Regions from separate parts of the Homo sapiens genome. Here region 1 is linked to region 2. Evidence: fine-mapped expression QTL. Tissue or cell type: whole blood. Region 2 holds a variant in brackets; the other region holds the start of a gene. All regions are shown on one strand. Distances are between the middles of the regions.

Region 1 (9,195 bases), 35 kb after region 2:
CTTAGAAATAACCACTATTCTGACTTCGTGGCATTCTCTTGTTATTCTTAATGGTTTTTAGTGCCTGAATATATCTCTAAATAATATTTGAACGGTCTTTACTACCGGAAAGTTCTTCCTTATGTTAAGATTTAATCCATTGCCCTAAAATTTTTTCATTAGTACTTTCTTTAACCCTTGGGGTTATAAATAACAAATTTAGCATTATTTTTACCCAGAAGAACCACAACTATTTTTTGTATTACATGGTTTCAATTGAATTCCACTATTCTGTTTGTTCCATTTGTATGTCTTTCTGGGAAAATATGATTCCCCAGTACACAACAATGTATTCTATCTCTGATTTACTCTCTAAGCATAGGACTGAAAAATCCCATCTCTCATTCTAGATTCCAGACATCTATTGATGAGGCCAAACATAGTGATGGTTAATGCTAAGCTTATAAGAGACTAAAATATTTTATATAAGACAGTGCCTGGGGCTCAGTTTCGGGCTACTGAAAAAAGAAATGGGAATGGTTTCCTTATAAAAGGATGAGTTTGGTCCTCTTGTCTCTCTCATTCTCTCGTTGCTCTTCCACCATGGGATGTAACACCAAGAAAGCCCTTTCAAGATGCCAGTCCTTTGATCTTGGACTTCCTAGTCTCCAGGACTGTGAGGCATTAAATTTATGTTCTTTATAAATTACTTAGTTTGTGGTGTTCTGTTATAGTAGTGTAAAATGAATTATGGGAACAAATAAAATTTGCATATATTTGAGGTGTGTATATATATATAAATATGTTATATATTATATAAATATATTATACATATTATATAAATATTATATAAATATATTATACATATTATATAAATATATTATACATATATCTATATATATAAATATTATATATATATATATTTTTTGAGACAGGGTTTCCCTCTTGTTGCCCAGGCTAGAGTACAATGGCACAGTCTCGGCTCTTTGCAACCTCCACCTCCTGGGTTCAAGTGATTCTCCTGCCTTAGCCTCCCAAGTAGCTGGGATTACAGATGCCTGCCACCACGCCCGGCTAATTTTTGTATTTTTAGTAGAGACAGGGTTTCAGCATGTTGACCAGGCTGATCTTGAACTCCCAACCTCAGGTTATACACCCACCTTGGCCTCCCAAAGTGCTGGGATTACAGGCGTGAGCCACTGCAGCCGGCCAATTTTTTTTTTTTTTTTTTTTTTTTTTTTTTATTAGACAGGGTGTTACTCTGAAGCTCCTGCTGGAGTGTGGTGGCACAATTATGGCCACCATGCCTTGACCTCCTGGGCTGAAGGGATCCTCCTGCCTCAGCCTCCCATGTAGCTGGGACCATAGGTACATGCCATCACACCTGGCTAATTTTTTTATTTTTTTGTAGAGATTGGTGAGGGGGCCTCACTATGTTGTCCGGGCTGGTCTTCTGGGCTCAGGCCATCTGCCAGCCTTGGCCTCCCAAGGTGTTGGAATTATAGGTGTGAGCAACCCGGCCCAGCCATGTGATGTTTTGATGTATGTATACACTGTGAGATGATTACTACAATCAAGCCAATTAACACATCCATAACCTCACACTTTGTATGTGTGTATTTGATATCCACTTTCTTAGCAAATTTCTGTTTTTTATTTTAATTTAACTTTTATTTTAAGTTCATGGGGTATATGTGCAGGTTTGTTATATAGGTAAATTTGTGTCATGGGGTTTGTTTTACAGGTTATTTCATCACCCAGGTATTAAACCTAGTACCCATTAGTTATTTTTGCTGACCCTCTCCCTCCTCCCATTCTCCACCCTCTGATAAGCGCCAGTGTGTGCTGTTCCCCTCCATGGGTCCATGTGTTCTCATCATTCAGCTCCCATTTATAAGTGAGAACATACGGTATTTGGTTTTCTGTTCCCATGCAAATTTCAAGCATACAATACATTACTATGAACTATAATCAGCATGTTGTACATTAAGTCTCCATAACTTACTCTACTTACAACCGAAAGTTTGTGCATTTTGACCAGTATCTTCCCATTTCCCCTACATCCCAAGTCCTGGAAACCACATTTCTGCTGTCTGTTTCTATGAGAAACTTCTAGATTCCACGTATAAGTGAGATCATGCAGTATTTGTCTTTTTATGTCTGGCTTATTTCACTTAGCATAATGTCCTCCAGGTTCATCCATGTTGTTAAATCCATGCCAGTTGCAAACAGCAAGATTTATTTCTTTTTTGAAAGCTGAATAATATTCCACTGTATGTATGTATGTGTGTGTGTGTGTGTGTGTACATATATATTTGCACTCATTATCCGTTCATCCATTGATGAAAAGTAGATTATCCCTATATCTTGGCTATTGTGAATAATGCTGCAATGAACATGAACATATATCTTCAGGATAGTGATGTTGTTGCTAGATCACATGGTAATTCTATTCTTAATTTTGTGAGGAGCCTTTATACTGTTTTGCACAATGGCTCTACTAATTTACATTCCCATCAACAGCATACAAAAGTTCCCTGTTCTCCACCTTCTCCCCAATGCTTTCATATTTTGGGCCATTCTGTATGGTTTACTGTACCGTATGACAGTAATGCTGTGCAGTATGTGCTATAGCCATTTTTGCATCTACTGGTACCAGTTCTGAAATAGCAGCGGCGCCCTTTCTGTTTAGAGTCGCCTTCTGGTGGTAGGAATTCTGGTTGCTACCATGTGTAGCCTGCAAGCCTCTAGCAGCTCTTTTGCAGCGACGCCGAGCGCCGGGCGCGGTGGCGCGTGCCTGTAGTCCCAGCTACTCGGGAGGCTGAGGCTGGAGGATCCCTTGAGTTCAGGAGTTCTGGGCTGTAGTGCGCTATGCCGATCGGGTGTCCGCACTGAGTTCGGCATCAATATGGTGACCTCCCGGGAGCGGGGGACCACCAGGTTGCCTAAGGAGGGGTGAACCGGCCCAGGTCGGAAACGGAGCAGGTCAAAACTCCCGTGCTGATCAGTAGTGGGATTGCGCCTGTGAATAGCCACTGCACTCCAGCCTGGGCAACATAGTGAGACCCTGCCTCTTTTGAGTTCTCACCTTATAAAGTAGCCTTTCTTCCCATGCATCTATCCTAAGACAAAAGAAATGCAGAATTTACATTCTTACAGGACTATTTTCCTCACTACACTGTGAATCCCCCCTCCCACCCCACCCCCATTGGGAATCTTCTTGTTTTTATTTTTATCTTATTTCACCATTATCTAGCTAAACACTTGCACATTCATGCTGCCAAGTGTTTATGGAGCACCGATTGTACACCAGGTACTGCGGTGAGTCTCAGGGGTACCAAGACCGAGGTTCGATGAGAATCCTGTAATCAATTGCAGAATGCTCCTTCCGAGAGCAGGACCCATCAAAATAGGAACTCCGTTTTGAGAGTTCGCCTCGATCGTTGAGGATAATCTTAGAAGGACCGAAGCAGTTCCGTTTCGTTACATTTCAAAATCTTATGTCAAAGTAAGCGCGCAGAAAGGGGTCCTTGCTCTTCTACACTGAGCCCTACGGCCCCCCTGTGGGGAAATACTCCTGATAATCATCTCGAAAATTGTTTCGACCAGCAGGGGTCACTATGAAGGCTGACTTGAGCCCAAGACACAATGGGGCACGGTAACCAGACTGGTCCGTAAGGGTTCCAGGAAGGAATGCAGTTTCAAGAGAACAGTTTGAATCTTTATTCGAATTTGAATTTTGGTACAATGAAGAGAGTCAGCTGCAACTTGACAATCGAAATCTTCAGAAAAGCGACACAAATACGTTCGCCTCGAGGAATATTGGGTCTTCTGCGCGGCCGTAGAGCTCCGCCAAGTGCGCCTGCGCGGAGGAGAAGTGGCGTCGAGTCCGGCCGGGCAGTAGAGGAACTTGCGGTAGTGACCCTCGGGCCTCGCCATGAAGAGCCGCTTTAGCACCATTGACCTCCGCGCCGTACTCGCGGAGCTGAATGCTAGGTACAGTACCCTAAGTGACGAGGCTCGTGTGGGGAGTGCAGGAGGCAGAGGCCGGAGTCCCATGGCGCAAACAGACCAGCTTGATATGTTTCCTTATTTCCTAGTGCGTCTATGGACCTGCCTAGGCCTGAGTGGGCAGGCGTGTGGTGTCTTTCCCGTGACCCTTAGGATACCCCTGGGGGTCCCAGGCACCTCGTGCCCCATCCCCCGCGTCCTCCCAGCTCTCTGGCTTGCCCCGCTAGCGCGAAGCTCTTGCATTGTTGGCCTGGGTTGTCCGGGTTGGGCAGGAAACGTTTGTTAAAACACGAGACGCCAGAGTGGTCGTTTGCTTCAGAGGTTTCCAGACTGGGGGCTTGGTTTCTTGAACACCTCCCTCCCCTCACCCCAGAGAGAGAGAGAGCATCGCGGTTTTAGCTGGATTGAGCAGATTTGGACTGAGATCTGGATTCTAGTCTGGATTCTATTATTCAGCCCTGTGAGCTTTGTCATATTTTCGGGGCCCTCTTTTATCTTTTTTTTTTCTCCCTTGTAATAAATTAATTGGATTATATTTTACTGTATTTCTCCCCCAAAATTGGGTCATTTGGAAGACGCAAGCTATAGTGTGTTGTTCCTAGAGCTGATAGACCACTTCTGTTTTTAAATCGTTACTCTTAAGTTTTGAACTGAATCTCCAAATGGCTTTCAGACTCTGCTCCTCGGCTGACTCCATATCCTTAGAGACTGAGATCCGCTCTTTCGAAGCTTTTATTAAATTATGTGTAGTTTTATGTTTCAGACAATAGTGTAACATGTTACATGTTTCCTTTATCTTTGCAGCTTGCTAGGAATGAGAGTAAACAATGTTTATGATGTGGATAATAAGACATACCTTATTCGTCTTCAAAAGTAAGAACATTTTATAGGCTTATTTTCTCTTTGACAATTAAGTATGAGATTACTGATTTTTTTTAACCTACATTTTAAGCCTGTTTAGCAATTAGCTTTGGCATATACCCTAAAGAAAAATTCGACTTTTTTCTTCTACAGACCGGACTTTAAAGCTACACTTTTACTTGAATCTGGCATACGAATTCATACAACAGAATTTGAGTGGCCTAAGAATATGATGCCGTCTAGTTTTGCCATGAAGGTAAACTTGTTACGCTTGAAGCTAAATTTTAAGAGATTGCTCACTAACAATTAAGTTTTTAATTGGGGTTTCCTTCACTGTTACGAATAAAGTGCAGATAAAATGAAGGTAAAGGGAGTGGTTGACAGATAATGGGTTGAATAAAGTGAATATTTATTAATTGATTTCTCCCCATTACCTTTCACATCCTGTTCTGCTCCAGATCTTCTGTTTCCACAGTCACTATTAGAGTTCAAGCTTTTATCACATTCAGCCTTACAGTTCCTTAACTGTAATTCACTTCTCTGCATCAAAACAATTCTAAATTAGACCAACGTTAATTTTTTTGTTTTTGTTTGTTTGTTTTTTTGTTCGTTTTTGAGAAGGAGTCTCGCTCTGTCACCCAGGCTGGAGTGCAGTGGCACAGTCTTGGCTCACTGCAACCTCTGCCTCCCAGGTTCAAGTGATTCTCTTGCCTCAGCCTCCTCAGTAGCTGGGATTACAGGCGTGTGCCACCAGACCCGGCTAATTTCTCTATTTTTAGTAGAGATGGGGTTTCACCATGTTGGCCAGTCTGATCTCAAATGCGTGACCTCAGGTGATCCGCCAGCCTCAGCCTCCTGAAGTGCTGGGATTACAGGCATGAGCCACCGCGCCTGGCCCAACATTAATTTTTTTAAAGTATAATTTTCATTAGTTACCTCACCTTTTATGGTTTCCTGATTTCTAAATCCATATTCTATAGCCTAACATTCTTGGCTTTCTGTGTTCTTTCTCCTCCCTGCCCCACCTTTTTTTCCTAGTCTTATCTTCCAGAGCTCACTTTTGTGAGTCGTATTCCTCTGTACCCAGTCAGTATTTTTTTTTTTTTGGAATACTCACTGACATTAATATGTTACTAAGTCTTTTTATTTTTCTGTTTTGTTTTTACTATTAAAACAGATTTTTACATGGGTGGGCATGCTACCCATTCTTTTATTGATGTAACATATAGATTGAAAATTCATGTGGTACACGAGACTTTCGAGTCACATATACTTAACTTTGAATTAATAGCTTTGTCAGAAAGTAATTTTATAACCTGGAAAAGTTACTTAACCTCTTGGAATTTAGTTTCTTTAAATGTAAAATGTGGATAGTACCTCCTTCATGAAATTATTGGATTAATTGAAATGATATATAAAACACCTAAAACAGACCAGGTGCGGTGGCTCATGCCTGTAATTCCAACACTTTGGGAGGCTGAGGCAGGTGGATCACTTGAGGTCAGAAGTTCAAGGCCAGCCCAGCCAACATGGTGAAACCCTGTCTCTACTAGCCAGGCGTGGTGGCACACACCTGTAATTCCAGCTACTTGGGAGGATGGGGCAGGAGAACCACTTGAACCTGGGAGATAGAGATTGCAGTCAGCTGAGTTCGCACTGTTTCACTCCAGCCTGGGCGACAGAGCGAGACTCCATCTAAAAAAAAAAGAAAGGCACCTGAAACAATACCTGACACATATTAGAACTCCATACATGTTCATTTCCTTCCTGCTCCGCTCCTTACTTTGGCAATGTATCTGTTATGGCATTGAGTTATTTCATTAGAGGCTTTACAGAGAAGAGCTTTACCCCCCAGCAATTTAGAGTCTGTTTTGGATTACAAATTAGGTAAGTGTTTCCATATCACAAGGGCTTTCACAAAATTCTCAGATTATTAAAGTTTAATTTATTTAATAGTAACCCAAAATAGTTCTTTTGGGGCCTGTCCTTAATAATAATGACAATAATAATGCTACCTGTTGTGTAGCACTTTTTAAGGCAGATGAATAATATGTATTTCATTTAAGTTGTTTAGCAACTCAGTGGACTGTGAAGAACAAATACAATTTCAGTTTTATGGATGAGGTAACAGGCCAATGAAATAGGACACTGGGATTGTGTAAACATCTCCAAATCAGACTACACTAATAGGTCAGTCACTTTAAAAAATACTTAGAATTCTATGGGTTAGGTGTACGTGTCAATCTAAATGTATAGAAAGATTTCCTCAATGGAGCAGACAATGTTAAGCACTTTATAAATCAAAGAGCTGTTACTGTTGCATGGCACAGGCAGAGTTATGTCTATTATGTGATAAATCACAGTGGTTGTTCCAGTATTCACATTTGGGGATGACAGCTATAGCTTTGTGGCACACAGCAGCAGGTTGATTTCACCAAGCTGTTGATAGGGAAATGAAACAAGCTTTAAATATGTACTATGTGTCCATCTGTACTCTCCATGATAAATAATCCCCTTTTTACTATTCCTTTGTGTGAACTTCTGTCCTTTCAATGATGCCTTTTGTCTTTATTTTTCTTGAATAAAATTATTACTCAGGGACTCTGGAAGAACTGATTGTGATTTTCCTCTAGGGATTTAAAGATAGCCCTACATGTAGGTTACTGTTTAATCAAATCAGTATAGGTCATTCTTAAAACTACTGAGTTAAGGAGGAGCAGATTGTTTATCCTAGGAAGTTATTCTGCCTATGTGAGTATATAAAATGCGAATTTCAGTCAATTTGGGCTATAAGGTCTGGAGAAGAACTCTTCTTAGTTATGAAAATGTTAGCATTAATTTTAATAATGAATTTATGTGTTTATTGTTGTTTTTTTTCAACCTTTGTCAAGGAGTGGATTTTTTGTCTTTTTTTTGAAGGTGGTCTTAGATTAACTTCTGTAAAATTTGTTTCGTATTTAAGTCTTTTTTTTTTTTTTTTTTTTTGAGACGGAGTCTTGCTCTGTCACCAGGCTGGAGGGCAGTGGCGCAGTCTTGGCTCACTGCAACTTCAGTCTCCTGGGTTCAAGTGATTCTCGTGTCTCAGCCTCCCAAGTAGCTGGGATTACAGGCACACGCCACCATGCCTGGCTAATTTTTGTATTTTTAGTAGAGATGGGGTTTCACCATGTTGGCCAGGCTGGTCTTGAACTCCTGACGTTGTGATCCGCCTGCCTCGGCCTCCCAGAGTGCTGGGATTACAGGCGTGAGCTGCCATACCCAGACCGTATTTGAGTCTTGAAGAAAGCATTCTTTCTTATTGGTCTTAACTAAAGGGTCTTTTATATTAAAAAATTAGAAACAATTGTAAGATATTTTAGAGGCTACAGAGTAGTCTTGTTACCAGTCCATGTCATACTTCAATATTTGTACAAAAAGACGGTACATGTAATCTAAAAGAGTAGGTATTGCCAAGTAAATTGTATTTGGATTTGATATACTAATATTATTTTAATTGTTAATAAGAAAAAGAACCTTATGGCCAGGGATAGGAGGAAGGGGATTTAATAAAGAATGAGAGTTATTACATTGGATTGAAATAGGTTATCAAAAGCTTAGAGACGATACCAGGAAAATTCTCTTTGGGTTATATTAGTAAAGTTTGTAGGAATAAGCTGGGCACAGTGGCAGGGCACTTGTAATCCTAGCTACTTGGGAGGCTAAGGTGGGAGATTGCTTGAGTCCAGGAGTTTGAGCCTTGCCTGGGCAACAGAGAGACTCTGTCCCTTTCTTTTTTTTTTTTTTTTTTGAGACAGAGTCTTGCTCTGTTGCCCAGGCTGGATTGCAGTAGTGTCATCTCGGCTCACTGTAACCTCCGCCTCTTGGGTTCAAGCGATTCTTTTGCCTCAGCCTCCTGAGTAGCTGGGATTACAGGCATGCGCCAGCACGCCCAGCTAATTTTTGTATTTTTAGTAGAGATGGGGTTTCACCATATTGGCCAGGCTGGTCTTGAACTCCTGACCTCAAGTGATCCACCTACCTCGGCCTCCCAAAGTGTTGGGATTACAGGCCTGAGCCACCGCTCCTGGCAAAGACTCTCTTAAAGAAAAAAAAAAAAAAAAAAAAAAAAAAAAGAATTGGTAGGGGTAACTGGATATAAGGTGGTGGACTATTTACAGGATACCATAAGCCATAAGCTCATGGTCCATAGTTGATATGTATTAGAAGTAGAAGATTAGTGGAAACAATTAATTAATTTTGAACATAAATGAAGCATACAAAAGGGAAATTTGGCATACTTAGAAGTGTCATCAAAGAGACTTAAAAAAAATAAAGGGACTGGGTGTGGTGGCTCACGCCTGTAAT
Region 2 (10,502 bases):
GCTCACTGCAGCCTCCTCATCCTGGGTTCAAGCAGTTCTGCCTTAGCCTCCGGAGCAGCTGGAATTAGGTCGCCCACCACCACGCCCGGCTAATTTTTGTATTTTTAGTAGAGACGGGGTTTCACCATGTTGGCCAGGCTGGTCTCGAAGTCCTGACCTCAGGTGATCCACCCGCCTCGGCCCCCCAAAATGCTGGGATTACAGGCGTGAGCCACTGCGCCCTGCCAAGGACACATTTTTGTATCAAATGGTTAATGATAAAATTAGACTTAAAATAACGTGAAACCTTCAAATATCAAGGGGAGAAAAACAGGAAATGGGTATCTTTGTTTAAAAAGCAAGATGCTATAAACAGCATATGGTAACATACTGTTTTTATTAAACAAATTTAAAATATTAGATAATGGTAGATAGGTTATATGATAACCTTATAAACGTCATTTCAGTCGGAAATAAACTTATTAAACATTAATATTCTAACAATTATTTCATTTACTTTCCATTTACCTTAAGATGAAGCACTGTCATAAAACTGAAAAGCTTAGGAGTCTGAAGATTGGGGTTCAAGTGTCATCCCCAACCCCACCTCTCTATTTTTGGGACAAGGTCTCGCTCTGTCACCAAGGCTGCAGTGCAGTGGTGCGATGTCAGCTCACTGCAGCTTCAGCCTCCTAGGCTCAAGAGATCCTCCCACCTCAGCCTCACCAGTATCTGGGACTAAAGGCGTGCGCCACCACGCCTGACTAATTTCTCTATTTTTTGTAGAGACAGGTTTTGCCATGTTGGCCAGACTGGTCTGGAACTCCTGGCCCCAAGTGATCTGCCCGCCTCGGCCTCCCAAAGTGCTGGCATTACAGGCAAGAGCCACCGCGCCTAGCCCTTTTTTAATTTTTATCTAGACACCTGGGTTATGTTTTTGTGTTTTGTGTTTTTGTTTTTTGTTTTTGAGACAGAGCCTTGCTGTGTTGCCCAGGTTGAAGTGCAGTGGCTCGGTCTCGGTCTCGACTCACTGCAACCTCTGCCTCCCAGTTCAAGCAATTCTCCTGCCTCAGCCTCCCGAGTACCTGAGACTACAGACATGCACCACCACGCCGGGCCAATTTTTGTATTTTTAGTAGAGACGGGGTTTCACCGTATTGGCCAGGCTGGTCTCGAACTCAACCTCAAGCCTCAAGTGATGGGCAGGCCTTGGCCTCCCAAAGCGCTGGGATTAGAAGCGTGAGCCACCAGGCCTGGCCTGGGTTATGTCTTAAATTTTAAACAGATGAATGCTCCAACAGCTAAGTATAGAAAAATCTTCTCTACTTTTTGACTCAAAGCCTGTAAATGAAGAGATTTCTGGAATTTACACGCAAACCAGGCTTCCCTAGAGAATGCCATTTCATAATTTTTAATCTCTTCAACAACCACTTATGTTTATGATATTCCTGACTAAAACAGTATAAATAAAATACTATAATTTTTATTCATTTATTTATCATTATTTTTTGTAGACACAGGACTTCACTGTAACCCAGGCTGGTCTCAAACTCCTGGACTCAAGCAGTCCTCCTGCTTCAGCCTCCGAAAGTGCTGGAATTACAGGCCTAAGCCACTGTACCCAGCCAATACTATATCTATCTCATAAGAAATATGTTTACTTGTAAAAAATGGCTTAGACCTAATTTTTTTTGTTGTTGTTTTTCTTTGAGACGGAGTCTTTCTTGGTCGCCCAGGCTGGAGTTCAGTGGCGCAATCTGGACCCACTGCAACCTCCATCTCCCGGGCTCACGTGATTATCCTGCTTCAGCCTCCTGAGCAGCTGGGACTACAGGCATGTGCCACCAAGCCCAGCTAATTTTTGTATTTTTAGTAGAGACAGGGTTTCACCATATTGGCCACGCTGGTCTTGAACTCCTGATCTCGTGATCCACCTGCCTTGGCCTCCCAAAGTGCTGGGATCACAGGCGTGAGCCACCGCGCCCGGCCCTCTGTTTTTAAATTGGAATTAATGTATTCTCTAACAATAGTACCACACACTGTTTACCCTAATTTCTGAATTCTTATAACTCTTAAAAATCGCTCATTTCATAAGACCCTGTCAGGTATTTCTTTTTATCCCATCAAGTACCAAGGATGACTCTGACCACATGACAAAGGTGGTCTGACCATGCACTTGTTTGATGATGATTTTATCCCTTTTATCATTTGAAACCCTTAGGTCAGACTTACCCAGAATTGAACACTATTTTAAAGAAGGGATAAATCCTGGGAAATCTATTAGCAGTAGAAATAAAGTGTAAATAAAGTTATAAGAAAGTGTATCTTTAGAAAAATTGCTAATCCTGCCAGGCATAGTGATTCATGTCTGTAATCCCAGCTATGCATGAGGCTGAGGCAGGAGGATCCCTTGAGGCCAGCAGTTCAAGGTCAGCCTGGGCAACATAGCGAGACCCAATCTCTGCCAAAAAAAATTTTTTAATTAGGTCTCAAAAACAAATAAATATAAATAAATAAAAACAGAGCCGGGTGCGGTGGCTCACGCCTGTAATCCCAACACTTTGGGAGGCCAAGGTGGGCGGATCACGAAGTCAGGAGATCGAGACCATCCTGGCTAACACGGTGAAACCCCATCTCTACTAAAAATACCAAAAAAAAAAAAAAAAGAAATTAGCTGGGCGTGGTTGCAGGCTCCTGTAATCCCAGCTACTCGGGAGGCTGAGGCAGGAGAATGTCGTGAACCCGGGAGGCGGAGCTTGCAGTGAGCCGAGATCGCGCCATTGCACTCCAACCTGGGTGACAGACCGAGACTCCATCTCAAAAAATAATAACAGGCCAGGCGTGGTGGCTCACTCCTCTAATCCCAGCACTTTGGGAGGCCGAGGTGGGCAGATCACCTGAGGTCGGGAGTTCGAGACCATCCTGACCAACGTACAGGAACCCCATCTCTCCTAAAAATACAAAATTAGCTGGGCGTGGTGGCACATGCCTGTAATCCCAGCTACTCATGAGGCTGAGGCAGGAGAATCACTGGAACCCAGGAGGCGGAGGTTGCAGTGAGCCGAGATCACACCACTGCACTCCACCCTGGGCAACAAGAGCGAAACTCCGTCTCAAAAATAATAATAACTTTAGATGCTACATAGTGCTGTTTCAAAGAGAGAATAAATGAATTAATAAAAAATGAATGGGGAAGAGAAAAAAAGAAGAAGAAAGGAAGAAAAGGAAGGAAAGAAAAGAAGAGAGTTGTATTGAAAAGTAGAGCTTGGCAGTGTTGTAAACGATATCTTAATCCAAAACCCAGATTTAGGTTGGAAAGGTAAAATTCCTTAGAAAATTATAACCAGGTAGGTTCATGTGAAATTTCCTGCTCCATATCCTCTTTTTAAATTTTACTTTATAAACACACATAGTATATATACCAAGAACAAACAATGGAGCAGCTTCTATGCTGTTCAGAACCTTTGAACCATCAGCATATAATTGTCTGTAGTAGCTCCTACTTTAAGATACAGTTTTGAGCACAATGACCAAGATTTATGAGTGTGGAAATGGTTGTAAAATCCTAGGTAAATGTTACAACAATTTTACAAGGATTAAGCCGGACACAATTTATGAGTTTGTTTCCATTTCAAGTAAGAAAGATTTATCTTCCAGTAGAGTTAGAAAGAGACTCTGTCTCAAAAATAAAAATAAAATCGATTATATGTCCACAAATAATAGTCAAATAGCATAACCTGCTGAGTTAAAGACTGGCTTCAGGCCAGGTGTGGTGGCTCACACCTGTAATCCCAGCACTTTGGAGGCCATGGCAGGTGGATCACCTGAGGTCAGGAGTTTCAGACCAGCCTGGCCAACATGGTGAAACCCTGTCTCTACTAAAAATACAAAAATTAGCTGGGTGTGGTGGTGCGTGCCTGTAATCCCAGCTACACAGGAGGCTGAGGCAGGAGAATCGCTTGAACCCAGGAGGTGGAGATTGCAGTGAGCTGAAATCACGCCACTGCACCCCGCTCCAGCCTGGGCGACAGAGTGAGACTCCATCTCAAAAAAAAAAAGACTGGCTTCAGAGGTAACATTACAGTTTCTTAAACCTGGGTCATTGGGGGCTATGCCCCTCTCCGGTGAATTAGGGCAAGAGTTCCTCCGCTGTCTCACTATGGGATGAAGGTCAACTACCCTGTGTGCCGACTTTCCACATTAACTGAATTAATGCCAGAAAAGGAAAGTCTAGAGCCTTTGAAGCAGTTTCATTTCCAAATGTAAAAATGGGTCTTTCTGCTGCTTATTATATCTTTTTAACATTACAGGAAAAACAAATCGTGAATTCAGTGTATTTACATAGTTATGTTAGAAGGCTGACCTGGAACATCATAACAATTTTGATGTGGATAAATCTTTAACAGTATATCAAAGATTCTAGGAGTAGAGCAAGTTACTCAATGTGTTTAACACTCTTAGGATGTGTTTAACACTCTTAGGATGTCTTTAGAAACTGCCGCCCCCATCCACAGAAATACAGGAGTAGACTCCTAGCAGTTCTGGATTTTCTGTGGGATTCCTCAGCATGTACATCTCTGGCCATACCAACTGGACCACAGGTAGACTCATTATCCTAATTGGCTATTTGGATTTTTTTTTTTTTGAGACAGGGTCTTACTCTGTTGCCCAGGCTGGAGTGCAATGGCACAATCTCGGCTCACTGCAGCCTCCACCTCCTGGATTCGAGCAATTCTCATGCCTCAACCTCCCGAGTAGGTGGGATTACAGGCACGTGCCACCACGCCTGGCTAATTTTTGTAATTTTGGTAAAGATGGGGTTTCACCATGTTAGCCAGGATGGTCTCGAACTCCTGGCCTCCAGTGATCCACCTGCGTTGGCCTCCCAAAGTGCTGGGATTACAGGTGTGAGCCACCATGCCCAGCCTGGATTTTTATTCCTAAGAATTTAGAATCAGATCTGAAGAAATACTGTGCCAGTCCATCTTTTCCCAGAGGATGCATCTTACTAACTAGAGACTGTGTCACAGCCATATTCCTGTTTTGAGTACTGGGAGGCAGACAGAGGTTAGTTTTCAGGGAGAAAGAAAGAAGCAGATGTGTGGAGAAAGCAGAGATGAAGCAGAGACTATTCCTGACACTCCAGGCCCTTACTAGGGTCTGTCTGCGTACCAATCACTGAGTTTCATGAAACACCCTAGTTTTGGGGTTTTTTTTTGTTTTGTTTTGTTTTTTGAGACAGTCTCACTTTGTGGCCCAATTGGAGTGCAGTGGAGCGATCTTGGCTCCACTGCAACTTCCGCCTCCCGTGGTTCAAGCGATTCTTGTGGTTCAAGCGATTCTCGTGGTTCAAGAGATTCTTGT[G/A]CCTCAGCCTCCCGAATAGCTGGGACTATAGACGCGTGCCACCACGCCCGGCTAATTTTTGTATTTTCAGTAGAGATGGGTTTTTGTCATATTGGCCAGGTTGGTCTTGAATTCCTGCCCTCAGGTGATCTACCCACCTCTGCCTCCCGAAGTGCTAGGATTACAGGCATGGGCCACCGTGCCCGGCCACATTACTTTTCTTTTTGCTAAAGCAGGCTCTAATTGGCTTCTGTTACATATAAACAAAGGCAATAGTTTTACAAAACATGTCAAGAAAAAGCAATGTGCAAGCAAAACAAAATTTTAAAGTAAATGCATCAAAGTCATAGATGTTAATGCTTCAAGAGAATTATATGTATATGACCACCATTAGAATTAAAGGGGTAGGGTGGGCTATTGATAAATCTAATTCAGTTTATAAAGAGCACTGAAGTCCTGGATTTTTTTTTTTTTTTTTTTGAGACAGTGTCTGGCTGTGTCATCCCGGCTGGAGTGCAGTGGCACAGTCGGCTCACTGCAGCCTCTGCTTCCCAGGCTCAAAAGCTGAAGAGGTCCTCCCACTTTAGCCTCCCAAGTAGCTTGGAGTACAGAAGTGAGCTGCCACATCTGGCTAATCTTTGTGTTTTTTGCAGAGACGGGGTTTCACCATGTTGCCCAGGCTGGTCTGGAACTCCTGAGCTCAAGCAATCCACCCACCTTGGCCTCCCAAATTGCTAGGATTACAGGGGGATTACAAGTGTGAGCCACCACTCCCAGCCTGACCTGGCCTTTTGACCTGTGCTTGAATTGCTTTATAGAGCTCTTAGAATAATTTAATGTATTCCTCATACCATAACAATAGTTGTCTTAATGTGGGAATAGAAAAAAAAAATCAGAGTCACTGGAGTTTTTCAGCCAGTATCATTTGCCCTAAACAAAAGGTAAGCATAAAATTAATACAATAGAATTCACTTCCAGGGAGATAGAGTAGGCATACTTTTTCCAATTCTTTTTCTAAGTACAACTAAAAACCCGAGGCATTACAAATACAAGAAGCATAAGAAGACTTTGACAGCTGGCGAGAAGGAGGCAGGCTGGCTAGCGACCTGGAAACCCAAGGAATGACTTAGTGGTAAGTTTCTTGCTGCTTTTTTGTCCTTATATCTTCCAAACCTGGAACTTAAGAAGTTGAAACCTTGAAATATGAAAGAAGCTCCAAGAGAAGCCTTCTCTCTTTAGCCAAATGATGAGGAAAGTGCAGGAAGACAGACAGCCAAAGGACCAGAAGAAAGCCTAGAAAGGCAGAAAACTTTTAGAAAATAACCATGTCAGCCAAACACCAAAGAAAAATCTGTAGCCCCACTTCCACCAATGGTAATAAAGGCCAGGTGGAGAGCTATCAACCTAAAGGGAAAAAAACTGAGGCAATCTTAATATAAGTAGAGAGTGTACTTGGGCCAAGTCTGAGGACTGCAAACGAGGAGTGTAGATCCAAGTTGCTCTGAATATACTCTAATTAGCAGTCATTACAAATGTGTTTCTCTTTCTTTCTTTCTTTTCTTTTTTTTTTTTTTTTTTCCTGAGACGGAGTCTCACTCTGTCGCTCAGGCTGGAGTGCAGTGGCTGGATCTCGGCCCACTGCAACCTCTGCCTCCTGCCTCAGCCTGCCGAGTAGCTGAGACTACAGGCATGCGCCACCACACCTGGCTACTTTTTTTTGTATTTTTAGTTGAGATGGAGTTTCACTATGTTGGCCAGACTGGTCTCAAACTCCGGATCTCCAGCGATCCACCTACCTCGGCCTCCCAAAGCGCTGGGATTACAGGCATGAGCCACCGTGCCCGGCCACAAGTGTGTTTCTGAAGGAAATAGGCAGTTCCTAGATTGTTTACCAAGAATTTACATTAAAATAACTGAAGCTATTGATTGGCTATACATTGTTCGTTGTATCACAAGTTCCAGGAACATGAAGACAATGGGTGAGGCAGCTAGTCCGGAACAAAATACTAGTCAGGAGCAATTGCCGCCAGCCTGGAGTGGTGGCTCAGTTGAGCTCAGGAGTTCGAGACTTGGGCAACATGGTGAAACCCCATCTTTACAAAATACAAAAATTTAGCTGGGTGTGGTGGCGCATGCCTGTAGTCCCAGCTCCTCAGGAGGCTAAAGTGGGAGGACTGCTTGAGCCCAGGAAGTTGAGGCTGCAGTGAACAGATATTGTGCCACTGCTCTCCAGCCTGAGCGACACTCAAAAAAAAAAATGCCCCCAGACATGAGTGGGGAGGTGCCTGAAGGCCCATACTCATGTCTCTGGGCCTGATAAGTTTTACATACCTCACAGAGCTCAGACTGTTCGTAGCTGTCTTTCTTTTCTTAGAGCCTAGGCATCCGCACTTGCCAGGCTCTTAATGAGGTGCCCCAATCTCTTGTCCCCTCACCAAGTTGAGTAGGGAACAGGGTTGTCCATCCCCACCAGGTGATAATGAGCCCCACCTAAATTCTTGGTGTCAATGGAGATCACTTGGGGAACCTGGATTTCTACTTCCCTTTGGCAGTAGGAGGCATCGTACCCTGCCCTGCTGGGGTGGATCAGAGGAGGCCTACTGGAAAGTCAGGATTTTCACTATAAGGAGTCCAGTTCCCTCTCCCACCACTGCTTCCTTCTGATATTGTGATATATTAATAAGAGATCTATATTTGATTTTTGGTCCCAGTTTCTTGCACAAAACTTCTGAGACCCTTGGAATTTCCTGACTGATAGATGTGAGGGGCACATCTTTTGTTATTCATCACGTTAACTAAAAATGAAATCCTAAGCCCTGCAACTGACTGAATGAACCACCTCTTGGCCAAGAGGACCCCAAAGAAACCTTAAAAACTGAGTTCCCAGCTATAACGAGATAGGAGGTCAGACATGCCTCTTTGTACCCCCTCCCTGTTGCAGTTTAGACACAACTGACCATCATTGATGTTAAAATAGAGATCATAAGATTGACAAAACAGGTTGGGCACAGAGCCTCATGTCTGTAATCCCAATACTTTGAGAGCCCGAGGCGAAGGATTGCTTGAGTCCAGGAGTTAGAGACCAGCCTGTGTAACTGCCCAATGGGTTCACCTTGCCCACTGTTTAGGCAGAGCCGATTTATCAAGACAGGGGAATGGCAATAGAGAAAGTTATTCATGCAGAGCCAGCTGTGCTGGAGACCAGAGTTTTATTGTTATTCGAATCAGTCTCCCGGAGCATTCAGGGATCAGAGTAGGATTTTTGTTGTTTTGTTTTTCGTTTTTTTTGAGAGGTAGTCTCACTCTGTTGCCCAGGCTGGAGTGCAGTGGTGCAATCTCACTGCAACCTCAGCCTCCCAGCAAGGGAGGCAAGCGATTCTCCTGCCTCAGCCTCTCGAGTAACTGGGATTACAGGCGTGCCATCACGCCAGACTAATTTTTGTATTTTTAGTAGAGATGGGTTTTTGCCATGTTGGCCAGGCTGGTCTCAAATTGATCCGCCCGCCTCTGCCTCCCAAAGTGCTGGGATTACAGACGTGAGCCACCCCACCGAGCCCAGGATCGGAGTTTTTAAGGACAACTTGGTGGGTGAGGGGGCAGCCAGTGAGTCAAGAGTGCTGATTGGTCAAGTAGGAGACGAAATGGAAGGGAGTTGAAGCTTTCCTCTTGCGCTGAGTCAGTTCCTGGGTGGGGGCAACAAGATCACATGAGTCAATGTATCAGTCTGGGTGGTGCCAGTTGATCCATCAAGTTCAGAGTTTGCAAAATATCTCAAGCACTGATCTGAATCTTTACAATAGTGATGTTAGCCCCAGGAGCAATTTGGGAAGGGTCAGAATCTTATCGCCTCCAGCTGCATGACTCCTAAACCATAATTTTTAATCTTTTGGCTAGTTTGTTAGTCCCACAAAGGCAGCCTAGTCTCCAGGCAAGAAAGGGGTTTGTTTTGGGAAAGGGCTGTTATCATCTTTGCTTTAAACCATAAACTAAAAACTAAGTGCCTCCCAAAGTTACTTTGGCCTATGCCCAGGAATGAACAAGGACAGATAGGAGATTAGAAGCAAGTTGGAGTTGGTTAGGTTCAGATCTCTTTCCCTGCGTCAGTTCCAATTTTGCAATGGGGTTTCACTTGAACACCACAGGGAGACCACCCTCCCACCCTCCGCATCTACAAAAGTAAAATAAAATAAAATTAGCTGGTCATGGTGGTGCACACCCGTGGTACCAACTACTTGGAAGGGTGAGGTGGAGGATCACTTGAGCCTGGAGTTCGAGGCTGCAGTGAGCCATGATTGTGCCCTGGCACTCCAGCCTGGGTAACAGAGCAAGACCCTGTCTCAAAAAGACTGACAGAAGGGCACAGTAGCTCACGGCTGTAATCCCAACACTTTGGGAGGCCGAGGCGGGCAGATCACCTGAGGTCGGGAGTTCGAGACCAGCCTGACCAATATGGAGAAACCCCGTCTCTACTAAAAATACAAAATTAGCCACGTGTGGTGGCACATGCCTGTAATCCCAGCTACACAAGAGGCTGAGGCAAGAGAATGACTTGAACCTGGGAGGCGGAGGTTGTGGTGAGCCAAGATCGCGCCATTGCACTCCAGCCTGGGCAAAAGAGCGAAGCTCCATCTCAAAAAAAAAAAAAAAAAAAAAAAGACTGACAGAACAGATTATCTTTATGATAATAAGATACAAATTATAAACAGGATCTAAGGCCATGCCAGGCAAGTGTTAAGCCATGCACTCCTACACTTAAAGAATAACCTATGTCCTAACCACCACAAGGTTTTTCTTTTTCTCTAGCAGCTAAATAAGCACTGGCCTTGAGATAAACAATGTTGAAGCAGTTGCAGCTTACAACCACCACATGCTGACCAACTGACTTTGTTCCATAAGCCATAACTACAGCTCTGATTGGACAAGAGATTGATTTCAGTAACTTTCTCCTGATAAGAAGACCACTGACCAAGGACTGGGTCTAGCCAGTTTACGTAGACTGCGTGCTTAAAAGTCCTTTTGTGTCCTGAAAAGACCTCTGATGAATAGGGCCTAACCGTAATACATTTAAATGTTGAGTCTCCACCCCAAGGTGAACATAGTTCATAAGTAACATGCATGTTTATTCAACATGCATGCACCAGGACCACCTTCATGAATATTCATAGCTCCTCCTCTAGCCT

The links. PIP is the estimated chance that this variant, and not a neighbour inherited with it, causes the effect.
Region 1: NEMF starts here. The variant in region 2 is fine-mapped to the expression of NEMF in whole blood (INTERVAL, PIP above 0.99).

The regions. Positions count from the first base shown.
Region 1 is chr14:49,847,475-49,856,669 of GRCh38, reverse strand. NEMF (nuclear export mediator factor) reads left to right here and starts at 3,882. Exons shown (of 33, transcript NM_004713.6): 1 at 3,882-3,975; 2 at 4,795-4,863; 3 at 5,005-5,107. The coding sequence starts at 3,917. It also overlaps RN7SL3. RefSeq lists a silencer at 2,773-2,832 and an enhancer at 3,636-3,875.
Region 2 is chr14:49,881,511-49,892,012 of GRCh38, reverse strand. No RefSeq gene overlaps it. Among named protein-coding and RNA genes, the nearest start is that of ARF6, 6.3 kb to the left of the region's middle. RefSeq lists an enhancer at 8,739-9,322. The variant G/A (reference allele first, on the strand shown) is at 5,344.